Linked DNA regions of Homo sapiens: region 1 is linked to region 2. A link means that fine-mapping ties the variant in region 2 to the expression of a gene that starts in the linked region. Tissue or cell type: subcutaneous fat. Region 2 holds a variant in brackets; the other region holds the start of a gene. All regions are shown on one strand. Distances are from middle to middle.

The links. PIP is the estimated chance that this variant, and not a neighbour inherited with it, causes the effect.
Region 1: ZNF185 starts here. The variant in region 2 is fine-mapped to the expression of ZNF185 in subcutaneous fat (GTEx, PIP 0.92).

The regions. Positions count from the first base shown.
Region 1 is chrX:152,894,222-152,902,390 of GRCh38, reverse strand. ZNF185 (zinc finger protein 185 with LIM domain) reads right to left here and starts at 4,324. Exons shown (of 25, transcript NM_001395254.1): 1 at 4,153-4,324. RefSeq lists enhancers at 181-703, 4,572-5,072.
Region 2 is chrX:152,921,399-152,929,579 of GRCh38, reverse strand. It overlaps ZNF185 (zinc finger protein 185 with LIM domain), which reads right to left. Exons shown (of 25, transcript NM_001395254.1): 11 at 7,324-7,407; 12 at 6,771-6,860; 13 at 919-1,005. LOC124905237 (a long non-coding RNA gene) reads left to right here and starts at 2,422. Exons shown (of 2, transcript XR_007068368.1): 1 at 2,422-2,661; 2 at 2,881-4,231. The variant C/T (reference allele first, on the strand shown) is at 4,367.

The DNA.
Region 1 (8,169 bases), 27 kb after region 2:
CCACATCAAGCTCTCTGGGAAACTGACCTAGTCATCACAAAGTGGCGTGCTGAGCCAAAGATCACAGGGACTAGACCAAGGGGCCCGGACTGGGTGCCCGAGCTGGGCCTACAGATGGGGCCAAGGCCAGGGACCACCGCCAGCAACCACCAGCAGCCTAGGGCTTGCCCACTGGCCCCAGAGGCTATGTCTCCTCTCTGACCCAGGGCGTGGCTTCAGAGCTCTGCCGCCATCTCAGCAGCAGCAGCCCCAAGGGCAGCTCTGCGGGAAGAGGGATGGCTCAGCGGGCGTTAATGAGTGGGTGAGGAATTGCTCTCTTGGCTGGCCTGGACCCACCTCCCTGCTCCAGGCAGGCACCCTCCCAGTTCCTAGCTCCCTTTTGAGGTGAGAAATGAGCACACTCCCAACAGGAAAAGCCTAGACCGTGTTTCTGAAAGTGGCCTCTGGGACCCTTCGGCAGTCAAATTCCCTGGGAGACACGCTTAAGCTGCAGATTCCTTCCTGCATTCCACCTCCGACATTGAGAGTGATACCCACAGGGCCTCTTGTCTTTTCCTTTTCCAGTCTCTTCTCCACTCAGACCTGTCCCTCCCACTTTGCTGTCAGTTCTCAGTCATTTCTGTGCCCCAGCGCCCAACACAGAAAGTGATCAAGAAAACACCTGCCAAATGCATCAATATGTGTCCCTGAGAGAAGTTAATCTGGCTCAGTTTCTAATCAATGGCACTTGAGCAAGTCCCTCTCTGTGCCTCAGTTTCCCTTTGGAAAAATGAACTGACAACAGCCCTGCCCACCCTCTGACCCATCCAAAGGCTACAAGTGAAGAAAGCTAATGAGAAATGTGGCAAAATGTTAATAGCGGGAATTCAGATAAGGCTTCAGGAGTTCTCTGCACGATTCGTACAACTTTTCTATGAGTTTTAAATCAATTCAAGGTAAAAAAAAAAAAAATTAAAGATAAAAAGTAACAACAGTGCTGGCATGGTGGCACTCGCCTGTAGTGCCAGCTACTCGGGAGGCTGAGGCACGAGGATCGCTTGAGCCCAGGAGTTGGAGGCTGCGGTGTGCTATGATCATGCCTGTGACTAGCCACTGTACACCAGCCTGGGTGACAAGGCGAGACCCCAGCTCTAACAAAAAAAAAAAAAAAAAGTGAAAACAAAAAAGAAAGCGAGTCAGACTTTAGTAGGCATGAGAAATCACCCTAAGAATTAAGTGTTCTTTAGTGAGTCACTTTAAATGTGGGTAGATACTGTTTGCATCATCAGCAGTAATTTCTAAACTGTTTTCCTCAGGTAGGGGCCCACATCCCAGTCAGCATCTCTCTCTCCACCTAGTCCCACTTCACTCCTTGCCACCACAGCCCTGAAGGAGGGCACCATAGTCCTGGCTCAGCTACCTTCCGTGACAGAGCACCTCTGTGCCAGGAACCTAGCACTTGCAGGCACCCAGTGCAGCAGGTGCTCCTGGCTTTAGCCACCCTTCAGTACTGGTGAGAAAACAGAGGCCTCAAGGGGTTGCATGAAGGGCCGAACTTTGCACAACTGGATGGTGGCTGAGCTGGGGTTTGAACCCAGGCTGACCTCTGAGCCATTCTCTTAACCACTAGGCTATGAAGGTGCCACCCTCACCTGCCACACACCTGACCAGGTGTGGGACAGTTCAGCCCCTCCTCCTCTTCCCGGCCTTTGGAAGCAATGATGGCAACCTCTCCTGAGCATCTCTCAGGGACTGGTCCCCTGATGGCACTGCCCTTGTCTTGGCATCAGCCGGTTCACTATGGGCACAGTGGTAACGAATGCAAAGTCCCTGGACTGACCCTAAACATGAGAGCCCAAAGGCCCGGACTGCAAGGGGTTGCCGCACTGGAGAGCAGCTCTCCTCTCTGGCACTGGTCCTGTCCCATGCCGCCAGGGACTGGCAGTGGGGGCAGCCTCAGGGCTCAGCAACAGAAGGAAAGCTTGTGTTACATGTGACCTGGCACCTTATAAGTTGTGGCTTGAAGCAAAACCCGCACCAAAGGGGGCAGTCACCTGTGGAAGCTTGAGTAGGGAAGGAGGAAGGCAGGCTTCTGGCTTCCAGAATGCACCGAGCCAGAATTGGGGGAGTTTGCTTGGCATGCAACTGAAGACAGTTCAGGGAACAAGTGCCGATGCCTATCGTGGCCAGGTCCTGGGCCCAGTGCTAGGGACCCAGAGTCCCTGCCCTGCCAGATCTCAGGAGGCCTTGGGGACACTGGGCAGGAAGACAAGGAGCACAAGTCAGGCTGAGGGAGGCTGAGCTGAGGCGCTGGCTGCCCCTGGCATCACTGGCCTCACGTGGGAAAGGCTTTTTCTGGAGTCTGGACTTGAGCTGAGCAGGAAGTGAGGTGGACAAGCACTGCTGCCATTTGGATTCAGATGGCAACTTCTTACTGACAGATGGCCTCTCTGTCACTCCTCAGGGCAAGGCATGGAGCTGATTTCTCTGTGGGCCCCCATATGCAGGAGCTCAGCAAGAAGTGGTTTATGATCTTTCAGGAGTAACGGGGAGGTTAGACTCCAGCAGCTCCAAAGGACGTGCGGGCCTTGACCTGGTGGCTGCCGAGCTCCTCCTCCTGCTTCCAAGCCCTTCGCCTCCAGGAAGCCTTCCCTGATCTTCCCAGCCAGGGGTGCCTCGCTGCTCCAGGACTGAGGAACCCCTAATGTTTTCATGCTACTCGGAGCTGCAACATCCTAAGTGGTCCTGGGCCACCTCTGTTGCTTGAGTCATGAGTGTCCAGAGGATGGAAATGAACAGATCTTGAGCACCTGCTGCGTGTCTGGCCCTGCACTGAGTGCCTTCCATCAGCTCCACACGGCTGAATGCACAGCATCCAGCCAGGGGCTGGGAATTGCTGGAAGGAGGGGCAGGTGAGAGGGATCTGTTCCTTCCCATCCTGAAGTGGCCTGGGAGCGATGAGGGGAACAGCGGAGGCACCAAGGCCTGCCAGAAGGCTGGCCCCTCATCTGTGCATCTGTGTCTTGGCCACTTGCTGGCCTCTGAGCTGCCCCTTGTTTTTCAGATGAGGAGCGGAGGCCCTGGGAAGGCAGGACCTCTGCAGCTCTGTTCAGGCCTATCAACCTGTGCACCCCTGCCTCCCGCCCCCAGCCAGGTACGACAGCCAGAAGTCTGAAGGGCCATGAGACCAAGGCAGGACTTAGTCCAGGTACTGAAGCCTCAAGCACTGCTGGATGGGGTGTGAGAGGCCCTCTCTCGGGGCTCACAGCTTTGGGGCCTCCCATGATGCCAAGGCTTCGTGCCGACGGCTCAGCAAGAACACAACTCCTACCATGCCTCAGATGTCCCAAAGCCGGGACACACCCACCACCTACTTTATCTGAGTCCCCAGCAGCCCTGGGTGGGAGGCAGCTTGACGTGTCACCCCCTTAAACCGACAGAGTACCCAGGTGTCCCCAGCTCAGAAGTGGCAGATCAGGCAGGAGCACCTGAGCTTTCGGCCTTTTTGTAAGGCAAGGTATCCCTCTGCCTTTCCAAAGAGGACAGACTCTTGGCTCCCTCTGCCCCCATCAAAACAATCCAGCCACAGAGCTGGTGCAGTGCCGATCCTGTCGATAACACCCAGTGACACCTGATTCGGCGCCTTCTGTCTGAGTGTGAGCAGCCACCATCCTCATGGCCCTCCCCAAGATTGCCCTGTACCCAGCACATGCACCTCACAGGCCCCAGGGCGATTGAGGGGATCCTCTGGGTGAGCCAGCCTCTGGGTCTCAGTTTCCTCATCTATAAAATGGGCACAGGGGGACGGAGGGATATGAGATTCCCTGATTCTTAAAGGCCTGCAGTCAACTCTCAGAGCATCCTGGCCCCTCGCCGTTTACTAACAATTAAACCGTGTCTTTCCTAAAGGGCAAGACAGAGGGATCAGGCTGGCAAGGGGGACACTTGCCTCTGTAGGGGACGCTGGCCTCCTCTGCCTGTCAGTCTTTTCACTCACAGCGAAAACCAGAAATCCACTGACTCCCGGGGGGAACCCGAAGAGAGATGCTTGGAGCTGGTAAGGGTTATGGATGGGGAAACTGAGGCCCTGACTTGTCCCCAGCTGGGCACGGACTGGGTGCCCCCCACTGCCTCCAAGCAGGGCCGCATCCAATGGCGACTCGACAGCCCTACCTGGCACCGGTGCCCGGCTCGTGGGGCGGGTGGAGGGTCGGGCAGTCGCAGGGCGCGGGCTCCCTCGGGTGGACGGCGCCCGGCCGGGCCGGGCCGGGCCGGGGAGGCAGGCGCGGGGCGCGGGGCGCGGTGCACAGCGGGGAGCGCGCAGGGAGGCGAGGAGGCGCGGACTGGGCTCCGCCCGCAGGAGAACAAACAGGTTTTCTCCGGCCGCCCGGAGCCTCGCCCCTCGCCCCTCCCCTCGGCCGGCCCCTTCCTCTGCCCCTCCTGGGGTAGGTAGAGGCGCCTGGCACATTCCGCACATTCTCCCGCCAGCGTCCTCCGCCCGCCCGCCCCTTCTCGGCCCCGCCCCGCGGGGCTGCTGGAGAAATCAAGTCTGGGGCTCCCCTTGTCGAGCACGGGGCGAGCTCCAGAAGGCTCTGCCGTGATGGAAAACTTCCAGGCAAATTCCTCCGGGCCCGTGGCCCCCAGGCCGGGAAGCCTCCGCCACGTGAAGGGCCCCCGCTCCTAGTTGCGCGATCTGGCCCCGGCACAGGGCCAACGACTTCCACAGATGCTGTCGGGTTAATTCAGTCGAGAACTACCGTTCCTAGATCCATTTTACAGATGGAGATCCCAGACAGGGGCGGGGAGGGGGGCGGGGGGCTGGCGGCTGAGATCATCCAGGAAGTCCTGCAGGCAGGAAAGGAGGAGAAGAGTGAGGGAGCCGCTCATCGTGGAAGGCCATCCTGGGACGGACCCGGGGCTCACAAGGCACAGCAAACGGGGCTATCTCCCAGGCTGGGCGACGAGATACAGCCAGACTCCCAGAGCCAATGCGGTTTGATGTACCTGTGTCACGCGTTGGTGCTCACCGAGTGCTTTATTGTGTGCAAGGCCCTGGGCTGGGGCTAAGGATGGAGAGAGCATGGAGGAAAGACCCCTCACCCCACGGCCTCCCAAACAGGGAGACAATTAAGCCAGCCCAAGAAATGGCATGGACTTGGCCAGGAGTTGGCCTACCAGGGTGGTAGGCTCAAAAGAATGGACCAGCTGCTTCTCCTTCATCAAGGCCTGCCAATGTGGTGTTTCCATGGCCCTCCAGTCCACCCACTTCTCCCTGTGCCTGCTGCCACCACCCTAGTCCAGACCTGGCCCCGAAGACCAGCCTCCTTGCTGGTGTCCCCCTGCCTCTGGTCTTGCCTTCCTTTCCCTCAGTCTCTACACGGAGGTCAGGTTAAAAGTTCACGTGTGTCAATATGATCAGGTGCTCTCCTGCTTGCAACTCCTCCATGGCTTCCCATTGCTCTCAGGGTAAAAGCCAGACTCCTTGAGACGACCTATCCCTGCAGGTCCAGCCACTCTTCCCTTTGTTCAATACATTACAGCCACACTGGCCTTTTTCCATTGCCTTCTGAATACATCACATGGCGCTCACCTTGGGGTGTTTGCTCCTGCTCCTCGGACTCCCTAAAATGCTCTTCATCCCCGTCGGGCTAGTGAGCTCTTAGTCATTCTTCAAGCCTCCACCCAGTGTCCGGAAAGCCTCCCCTGCCTGCCACCCAGTCGAGCTGATCACTTCCTTCTGTGCACCCCTTAGTTCCCTCAGATGACATCAATCCAGCATAGTGGCTGTCACCCTCTATTGTTCTAGATCCTGAGCTCTGGGAGGGCAGGGCCCCTTCTGATTCATCACTGGGTCACGGAGACCAGCACAGGGCATCCGAAGAATTTGCAGAAGGAAGTGATGGATGGGTGAGTGAGGCTGTGGAAGCTGTCCTCATCCTTTTCTTCTTGGGGTTCATGAGATAGGGAGAAGGCGACCCTGTGTGTGCTTAGGGGGTTGTATATAAAGTCACTTCTGTTCATGTCCGTCTCTTGCCAACAAGCATTTTTCTGCTTCCAATATTGTATGCCCCTGTCTGGTGGCCAGCAACTAACACCTCCCCTCCTCCACTGTGGCTACTGGTGGCCATGGATTTGGCTTGGCATCTTACCTCCTAAACATGTTTACTGTATGACTTAGGCTGTGTCATACTCTTTGTCTGGGTCCCAGTCCTCTTCAAGAGCCCCTAGTTTGAAAGGGTAGAAGGTAGAAGACATCATGATGGGTGAGATGTAGGGCAAGGAAGAGGGAAAAGGCAAACTTGTTCAAGAGCCCTGAGTCAGGGGTGGGGGGCCCAGCTGGAGAGCATGAGCAAATGTGGTGTCCAACGGCACGGCCAGCAAGTGAGGACTGCCCCAGGCTGGGCCGCCCCAGGGCCTCAAGCTCTTCCCATGTCCCAGGTGACTCAGTCTCTGCCCAGGCCCGATCTGTCACGACTGCTCCAGCCAAAGAGATCAGCCTTCCCTGAACCCCTCCCTCCCTGCCAGGCTGCCAGGCCCTGCAGCTGATCTTGCCTGCAAACGGGTTTGACTTGAATGGTAACTGCCCTGCCCTGCCCTGCCCACCTGTCCATTGCCCCAACAGTCTTCCACTTCCACGCCTGCCAGGGCACCTCTAGTCACCTCAGCCAGGCTTCAGGCACCTGCTGGCTTCTTCAGCCTCTTCAAGCACCAGACATGCCCAAATGACATGTACCCAGATAGACCAAGTGCTCAAATACCACCAGGACGCTGCACAAGATGCTCCCTTTGTTTGGAATGACATTTCCTCCCCAGGGACACCAGGTGGCCTCCACTTTCTCTCAGCAGTAACATTATCTCCTTCATGAACCTTCCCTTAGACCTCCCTCAAGTTCTAGGCCAAGGCTGTGGTGGCTGCTGCCTGCCTCCAGGCTGGGCTCTGTCCCTACCTGGCCTGAGCTTGGCCCTATCCTTTCCTATTCACATCTCTTGCACTTTTCCACCCATCCGCAGCTCCAAGACAGGCCAGCTCCCACCCCCTGGCTCTGGCAGAGTTCTCCTGAAGTCCCTCCAGCTTAGGCAGCAGTGCCACCTCCAGGGGACTGGACAGTCTCTTCCCACCAACAAGCAGGCCCTCAGCAAGGCTCTAAGTGAGAGGTAGGGGCTTCAGGGTGGGGCCAGGCTGGGCTGTCTGGGCAGGCAAGAGGCTGAAAGGTAGAGGCAGGGAGTAGCAGGTGGTGAGCCCTGTGCTGGAGAAGCCATAGCTCACAAGCAGGCCGTGGAGGCAGCGTCTCTGGGAGGCTGCATCTAAGCAATGAGATGGGTAGCACGGCAGGTGGCTGCTGGGAAAGAACTGGCCAGCAGCACTCCTCAGCTCCAGGGGAGGCCCCATTCTGATCTCCAGGGCTGGGAAGAGAACTCAAGCAAGGTGATCTAGCCCCAGAGTTCCCAGGCTAGGAGGTGGGCACAGTGGCTCACGCCTGTAATCCCAGCATTTTGGGAGGCCAAGGAGAGAAGACCGCTTGAGCTCAGGAGTTCAAGACCAGCCTGAGCGATATGGTGAGACCCCGTCTCTACAAAAAATACAGAAAACAAAAAGAGTTACCAGGCTAGAGGGGGAGAAAGAGGGGTTGGGCCCTGAAAGCTGTCAGGCCGCAAAGCTCCCCCAGGCAGTGTCCTCAGCTAGAGGGGACTGAAGACAGGCAGGCAACCTCAACACTTCAGTTGTACAAATGGGAAAACAGAGGCCCACAGAGGGACAAGATGTTGCCAGGATTACACAGCTAGTCTGAGGCAGAGCTGGGCTTAGAACCTGGGGTTCCAGCTGCTCTGGATGGAGCCCCTGCCCAGCTGGAGAGAAGCTGGGGTGCTCAGGTTCATGTGCGGGGAGGGCTGGGCTCCTGCTTGATCCCTAATCCCCTCCTTCCCGGGGCCCGCCCTGCCACCTCATCCTCTTAAGCTCTTCAACCGGTTTACACTTGCTGGGTGACTCTGCTGACTCCAAGCAGGGTGGATGCCCTGGAGGCAGGGGTCCCCAGGTGTGATTGCAGGTAGGATGGGTCCTTTGAGCCCCGAACCCGTGAGGCCAGGCCCTTGTGTTTGTAACCAGCTCTCCTGCTAGGAGCTGGTCCAGCCTCTCAGCATGTGGAGTGGCTGCTCCTCTCCCCCTGTTCTCAGCCTGCACTCCAAGCT
Region 2 (8,181 bases):
GGAGGAGCCAAGGAGGAGGGTAAAGGGACCTAGAGATCGCTCAGGACTCATCTTGGATGTCAATTCCTCCAGGAAGCCCTCCCCAAGCACTCCCACCCACCACACTGTTGAGAGGCCTCTGCTCGAAGTTCCTGCCACCCCAGGGATTAAGGGATGACCTTCAGTGTACACTCCCGCTTCTCTCCCCAGTCCCTGGCCTTCACAAGGTAGGGGCCCAGTCTCCCTGCTCGGATCTCTCCTAGCCTCCACCCCAGCCCCCGAATCCTGCCTGCATGTCACCTGGCTGTCTGACCCCCACCCCAGGGCAGAGGCTGAGCCCCTCGTGCTCCCTGCTGGTTGTGGCCTCCTTGACCCACCCCTCCCCAGCACAGAGCCTAGTGGCATGGAGAGCTGTGGACTCTGACCCAGTGACCCCACTCTATTCCCAGTGGCCCTCTCACACAGGCAGGGCAATGGCCTCAGTGGCCTTCACGGGCTCCTTAGACCCAATCCTCCTCCCACCCCCACCAACATCCCCAGCACGGCTGACTGGTCCCATCTTCAGCAATTGGCAGGGTTGAGCTGTCACTTCCCAGGGGCTCCTGGCACACAGCATCTCTGGCTGACCTCATTCATGCTCATGTCGGCGTCTGCCTCCCCCACCAGGCAGATGGCAATTCCAGCCAGGGGGTCCTGTTCACTACTGTGTCCCAGGGTCGGGCCTGTGCCCTTACACAGACTAAGCGCTTGCTCCATAATGGTTTTCTGAGTGAAAGAATGAGATGGGGCAGAAAACCCAGGTCGACCATGCCTCCCATCAACCTGTTGGCCCTACAGTGGCAGAGCCGGCCCTAGGCCTCATCATTTGCCACCTGAGGCTGCTGCTTCCATCTCTAGAATGGTGTCCAGGGAGCCAGGACAGCAGCAGGACCCCCATACCTCATGCCTTCCACGTCTGGGGCCACCAGGCGGAGTCCTGCCCTGGGTGTCAGGATCTGCAGGCGGACAATTTCCTCACCTCTTGAGCTGCGGGCCAAAGGAGAGACCCAGTGGGTTGCAGGTGAGAAAAGTCTCCCCCTTCTTGGGCTGGTGAGTGCGGTGGGCCGCCCAGACCCACTGCCCCCTTTTGATGTGCTCTCATCTCCTCCTTGGCCTTGAGCCTTGTTGGTGCTGCAGCTGAGCTCGGGCCACTGACCTGTAGGCCCCTTCCCCGGTCTCCCACCCCTGACCTGAGCCCAGCCCTCCCTCAGGCACAGCAAGGGCCCTTCTGGGTAGAAATGAAACCTCCCAACCCGTGCTTCTACCAACCATTTGCAGGGGCAACCGCAGCCTGTGACCCCACCAGGGTATCCAAAGTGGCCATTTGTGAGGCCAGGGGTAGTTCTGCATTCATGGACTGGTGGGGACTGAGGGGTACGAGAGACTGAGAAAACCCACAGACCAAATATGGAATGAAAACCAGTGGGAGGGGATGTCGCAGACTCGGGGATGAGGACAAAGGGCCCCTTTGAGCTTTCCTCTTGCCAGCCACGCTCAGAGCCCTCCCCCAGATGACCACAGGCCACCCCGGACACACATCCCTCCAAGTCTGATGCATTCTCTGGCCGTACTGCAAGGCATGACGCCCAGCAGGCTTGGCCATGGTGTGGCCAGGGCCAGAGAGAATATAGAGCTCCCAGGCTTTCTGGGGGTGGACCCTTCACCCCAAACCAGACCTCCTTAGGTCCATGGAGCAAAGCCTAATTCCAAGCCACATTGCAGTCACTCCTGCCTTTGTCCCTGGGCCCTGGAAGTGCAGACAAGCCTGAGCCCCAGGCCTGCCCTGGTGAAGCTCTGGGCCCAGCAGGGTCAGGCAGGGGCAGAGAGGCATGGAAACTGACCTTGCTGTGCTGCAGGGCCCAGAACAGGTTTAGCCATGGGAGCAGTGGACAAGCTTCATGGAGGCATAGCCCGACCCAGGCCAGCTGAAGGGAGATCGGGGGAGGAGGAGGAGGTAGAGGCTGGCAGGGGTCCTGAATGTACAGACTAGATCTGGTATGGCAAAGGGAAGATGCAGGATGGGCTTGAAGTGGAGGTGGGGGGTTTATAGGTTCAGACTGGCACTTTAAAGAGGCCACTCAGGGGTCCCAGGAGGGGTAGGGGATGGAGTGGCCAAGGTGAAAGCAAGGAATGAGCCATGGAGGGCTGGGTCAGCGGGCTGCTCATCTCTGTCCCTCCACTTCCACCCTGGCCAGGGCCTGGAGTGCTCAAAGTGACCAGAGGGAAATGGAAGGGCTACCAAGGACAAGGCCTCTCCCATCATGAAAGCCAGGAGGGGCCCTAGACACACAGACAGCTCTGACTTCTCCCCATCTCCTCTCGTGATAACGACGATGACATCGTTGTTGAGGATGATGTCATTTATGATGACAGTATAAAACCCCTGGCTGCCTCATTTAAATCAGGTGGTGCCAGGGAACAGGGATGTCACAGGCAAGCACAACATATTTTCTCACTGGCGTTTCTGGCTCTGTCACAGAGGAAATGGGAACAAAGTGTCACCCCAGCCTGCTCCAGTGACTGATGTCAGACTAGGGCAATGTGGGCAGACACAGAGGGAAGACGGCTGCGCGAAGACAGAGGCCGAGATGGGAGTGAGGCGGGCGCAAGCCAGGAAACACCAAGGATTGCAGGCAACAAAAGGTAAGAGAAAGGTATGGAACAGATTTTCCCCCAGAGCCTTTGGAGGGAGCATGGCCCTTCCGACACCTTGATCTCAGACTTCCAGCCTCCAGAATTGTGAGAGGATAAATGCGTGTGGTTTTAAGCCACTCAGTTTCTGGTACCTTGTTACAGCAGCTCCAGTAAACTAATACAAGGGTCTCTCCTCCCCCACAACCCGCTACCCCACCATCTCCCCAGACTCTCAACCACAGACAGCTCCAGTCCAAGCTGAAGTCCAGGACCACGCTGGAAGGCTGCACACCCTTGGAAGGCACCCAAGGAAGAGAGGCAGGCATCTGCTGAAGCCTGAAGCCCAAAACTGATCACAGCCACCTGTGGGAATGCGACCAACTGTGGCCTGTGCCAAACAGTGTGTGACTCATTCTGCCAAAGAGCGAGGAGGCGGGGATGTGGGGCGAGGGGATACCTCCTTTTCACTGCCTTTGGCCACATTTCCCTCAAATGCCAGCAGGTGGAGATATTGATCTCTTCCTGTATTTGAATAAGGGCCCTGCAGCTCAGCACGCCTATGACTGGGAGCCCCCGAGGATACCAGCACCCAGGCACTGTGGTAAGTACTTCAGGTGCACGATCTCATTTAGCATTTGGGACAGCCTTGGGAAGTAGCTATTACTGCTCTCCCTATTTTATCCACGGGGAAACTGATGCATGGAGAGATGAAGAGACTTGCTCAAGGTCACACAGTCAGTCTGATGCAAAGCCAGGGTTTTGTCCTGTGCCAGAAGCTGTGCTCCTACTCCCTGCTCCCCAGACGCTCTGCCAGGCAGCATGCTGGGCAGAGCCTAGGACCGGGACCCAGGAGGCCATGCCCTGGTCAGGTGAGGCAAGCTTGACCAGTGCTTCGGGTAAAGCAGCCAGGCCTGGGGGCCGAGAAGGGGTGCATGTGTAGAACCAGTTTCTCCAAGAGAGGGTCCCTAAACTGGGTTCAGGTTGCAAGGGGGGCAAGAGTTATGAGGAGCTGACCTTTGCACTGTAGCTAAGGGAAACAGGGCAGGGCAGGGGGTGGGGAGAGGGTAGCCTCGATAGGTCTGTGCCTGGGGACAAGGCTGTGACATTCTCCTCTTCCACTCTGCCACAAACCAGCCTTTTCTGAAGTGCTGCAGGACCCTGAGTTTGATTGAGTCATTGTTCCTCACGGGCTGGGCTTCTCAGACACCAGGCAGATAGGAGCTGGGCCTGGGAGTACTGATGGTGGCTGCTTGGTCCAGTGCAGCACCTAACGTGGTAGGGTCAGAGAAGACGGCCCTCCAGGGTCAGGATCAGCCAGCAGCTTTCCTGGAAGCTGCCTGGGTGAGCTCCAAATATTGAGTGACCAGAATTGGAGGAAAGAACTATCAGAAGCATCAAGCTGAGCCTCCTGTTGGGAGCTTGCCCCGGACCCTGAATCTCTAGCCTTTATTTGTTATGGCAACCTGAGCAAACTTAAAAAGCCACCTTGCAATGACAACCATATGATGGGGATTAAACATCGAAAGGAATTTTGTGGAATAAATGTCAAAGTGCCTTTTAAATCTATAATACAGCACAATCTAATTCTCCTCCATTCTTTCTCTCTTTTTTTTCTTGTTTTAGAGACAGGGTCTTGCTCTGTCACCCAGGCTAGAGTGTAAGGGTGCGGTCACAGCTCATTGCAGCCTCAAACTCCTGGGCTCAGGCAGTCCTC[C/T]CACCTCAGCCTCCCAAGTAGCTGGGACTACAGGTGTACATCAATGCTCCCAACTAATTTTTAATTTTTATTTTTTATTTTTTTGTAGAGATGGGGTCTTGCTATGTTACCTAGGTTGGTCTCAAACTCCTGGCTTCAAGCCATCCTCCTGCCTTGGCCTCCCAAAGTGCTGGGATTACGGGCATGAGCCACCATGCCCAGCCTCCTATATTATCTTCTAAAAGGCACCTGAGGCCAAGCGCGGTGGCTCACGCCTGTAATCCCAGCACTTTGGGAGCCTGAGGTGGGCAGATCACAAGGTCAGCAGTTTGAGACCAGCCTGGCCAATATGGTGAAACCCGTCTCTACTAAAAATACAAAAATTAGCCGGGCGTGGTCGCGTGCACCTGTAATCCCAGCTACTCGGGAGGCTGAGGCAGAAGAATCGCTTGAACCCGGGAGGCGGAGGCTGCGGTGAGCCGAGATCACACCACTGTACTCGACAGAGCCTGGGCGACAGAGCGAGACTCCATCTCAAAAACAAACAAAACAAACAAACGAACAAACAGAAAGGCACCTGAAACCATTTATTGCCTTTCTTTAAAAGAGAAATAAGGAGAAATGAGAACTGTATACTGTTATGGGCTGACTTGTGCCACCCAAAATTCATATGTTGAGGTCTTAACTCCCCCATGACCTCAGAATGTTACTGCATTTGGAGATGGGGCCTTTAAAGAAGTGACTAAGTTAAAATACAGTTGTTAGGGTGGGCCCTAATCCAGTTGGACCAATGTCCTTATAAGAAGTGATTAGGGTCTGGGCGCGGTGGCTCATGCCTGCAATCCCAGCACTTTGGGAGGCTAAGGCAGGAGGATCATTTGAGTCCTAGAGTTCCAGACCAGCCTGGGCAACATGGTGAAACCCTGTCTCTACAAAAATTTAAAAAAAAAAAACTAGCTGGGTATGGTGGCCTGTGACTGTAGCCCCAGCTACTCAGGAGGCTAAGGCTGGAGGCTCTCTTGAGCCTGGAAGGTCGAGGCTGCAGTGAGTGGTGACTGTGCCACTGCACTCCAGCCTGGGCGACGGAGTGAGACTCTGTCTCAAAAAAACAGAAGTGATTAGGACGCAGGCACACACAGACAGGGATGAGCATATAAGGGCCCAGGGAGAAGATGGAGTCTACCAGCCAAGGAGAGAGACTCAAGAGGAACCAACCTTGCCGTCACCTTGATCTCACACTTCTAGCCTCCAGAAGTGGGAGATGATACGTTTCTGTGGTTTAAGCGCCCCAGGGTGTGGTACAATACTTTGTTGTGGCAGCCTTTGCCCCCATATCCCTCAATTGCCAAGTCCCCTAGATCAGGGGTCCCCAACCCCAGCCTGAGGATCAGTACCAGTCTGTGGTCTGCTGGGAATCAGGCTGCACAGTAGGAGGTAAGCTAGAGATCATTACTGCCTTAGCTCCGCCTCCTGTCAGATCAGCAGATTCTCATGAGAGCGCGAACCGTATTGTGAACTGCACATGTGAGAGATCTAGATTGTGCGCTCCTTATGAGAATCCGGTGCTTGATGATCTAAGGTGGAACAGTTTCATCCTGAAACCATCCCCTGCTCCGTCCCGTGGAAAAAGTGTCTTTCACGAAACCAATCCCTGGTGCCAAAAAGACTGGGGAGCTCTGCCCTAGATATTGCCTTGTAAAGAATTCTCAAATCTTCCTTTCCACATCTTCTATGGACCAAAGTTCTTATGGGGAGAGTCAGACAACCAGAGAAGATCAAGAGAGGGAGAGAGTGAAAAGGAGAAGCACCCTGGCAGTCTGCTGCCTGGGGCCATGGAGGGAGCTGGCCTCATGCTCCTGGCTCCCTCTGCCAGCATTTCTGTCTCCCTCCCAGACTGAGGAAGTAACCCTGAGGACAGTGGTCACCTGTCTATAAATGGCTGTGGAGCTCAAATTGGGGGATTGCTATGGTATTAGGAGAGCCTGAACAGCCCTTGGGGGCCTGGGAAGTGACCGGTAGGGACAGGCCCTCTCCCCTTCTGGATGCAGGGGTCTTCCAAGGGTGCTACAGAGATGCAGCTCTTAGGAGACCTAGATTTGAGCAAAGGTCTCAATCCAGGCAGGCACTTTAAACAGCAGCAACAGCAGGTGGTGGCTCTCCCTGCAGGACTTAGCACCATTCTGCACAAAGTACAAGAAGGTATTAGTTGTCCACAGACAAGAGAGCACCATTATCTGCCCAGATTCTCAGGGATCAGAAATCAAGACAAATCACGGCCCTTCCTGGAGTGAGATCACCAGTGCTCAGCCTGTCCTTGCCCCATCACCCCACTGCCAGACCCTCCCCAGCTGGCAGAACCAGCCAGCCAGGCTGGCGGGAAGCCATCACACCCACTCACAAGCCAGAGTCAGCTCTCGGCACCCACCTGAGCTCCTGGCTCCCAGCGGGGCTAGGCATACTTGGCAGGCACTCGATCCAAATTGCCCGAGACGCTTTGGTCCTGCCTCCATCCGCACTGGCAAAGAAGGTGGCTGTGAGAGGCTCTGGAGATGTCAGAGCCTCCTCCCTGGGCATGCTGAATGTGGCTAACTTATTGGAGTGCAAGGAGCAAGTCTGACAATGGCATGCTACTGCCATGGTGGCTGGCCCTCTCAAACCCCAAGGATGGTACTTTTTCTTGGGGTGTTCAAGTTGCCACCAGGCTCAGTGGTGCAAGGGTTAAGGTGACACAGATACGTACTCATCAGACCAGAGCCAGGTGCTCTCTCCCGGGGGGCTGGACTGTTTTGCTCCTTTCAGCCCTGGGACATCCAGCCAGATGGGCTCTTACTGATTTCTTTGTCCCGTCTTGTCACTGGGCACATGGGGACACTGATCTCGAAGCCCAGCATGGAGGTGCCCTGACTGAGGTTCCTCAGTGACTGAGTGGCAGGTATGGCAGCCACCAGCCCCAGGCAGAGATGAGCGCAATGGATTACCTGTTTGAGCCAGGAGTGGATCTTGCCAGAGCAGGTGGGTCCTGGCTCTTCTCAGAAGGCCCGTCCTCTTCCACCACCTCCACCCTTTGAGCAAGAAGAGAAACAGCGCTCGTGGTCTTCTTGGCTGCCCTAGAGCTTGGAGGCCTCAAAGAACATGCTTCCAGTGGCGTCTAACTGACCCAACCCTTCAGGATCACGGCCAAGAGGTGGCCCAGGCTGGGGGTTCAGTGACTCCAGCTCAGGATAAGGACAGCATACTGGGTTGAATAGTGTCCCCCCAAAATTCATGTCCCCTGGAACCTGTGACTGTAACCTTATTTGGAAATAGGGTCTTTGCAGATGTAATCAGGTAAGATGAGGTCATACTGGAGTAGGATGGGTCCTAAATCCAATGACCGCTGTCCTTGTAAGAAGAGGGAAATCTGGACACAGACACACAGAGAAGAGAAGGCCATGTGAAGACAGACGCACAGACTGGAGTGATGCAGGTACAAGCCGAGGAACACCAAGGATCACCAACCACCAGCAGAAGCCAGGAGAGTGGCCTGGGATGGTTTCTCCCTCAAAGCCTCCAGAAGGAACCCACCCTGCTAACACCTTGATCTAGACTTCTGGTCTCCAGAACCGGGAGAGAATCCCTTTCTGATGTTTTAAGCCACTCAGTTTTTGGTACTGCGTTACAGAAACCACAGGAACCAAATGCAGCCAGGAAGACCCCCCCACCGCCCCCCGTTCTCTGTCACTTCCTTTGTGCTGCCACCATCCCTGCTCTCTGTATTCCTGCCAACTTCCTGGTCTTCCAACACAGCAAGCTAGTCCCACCCCGGGCCTGTGCACTGGGGCCCTCTGCCTGGGGCA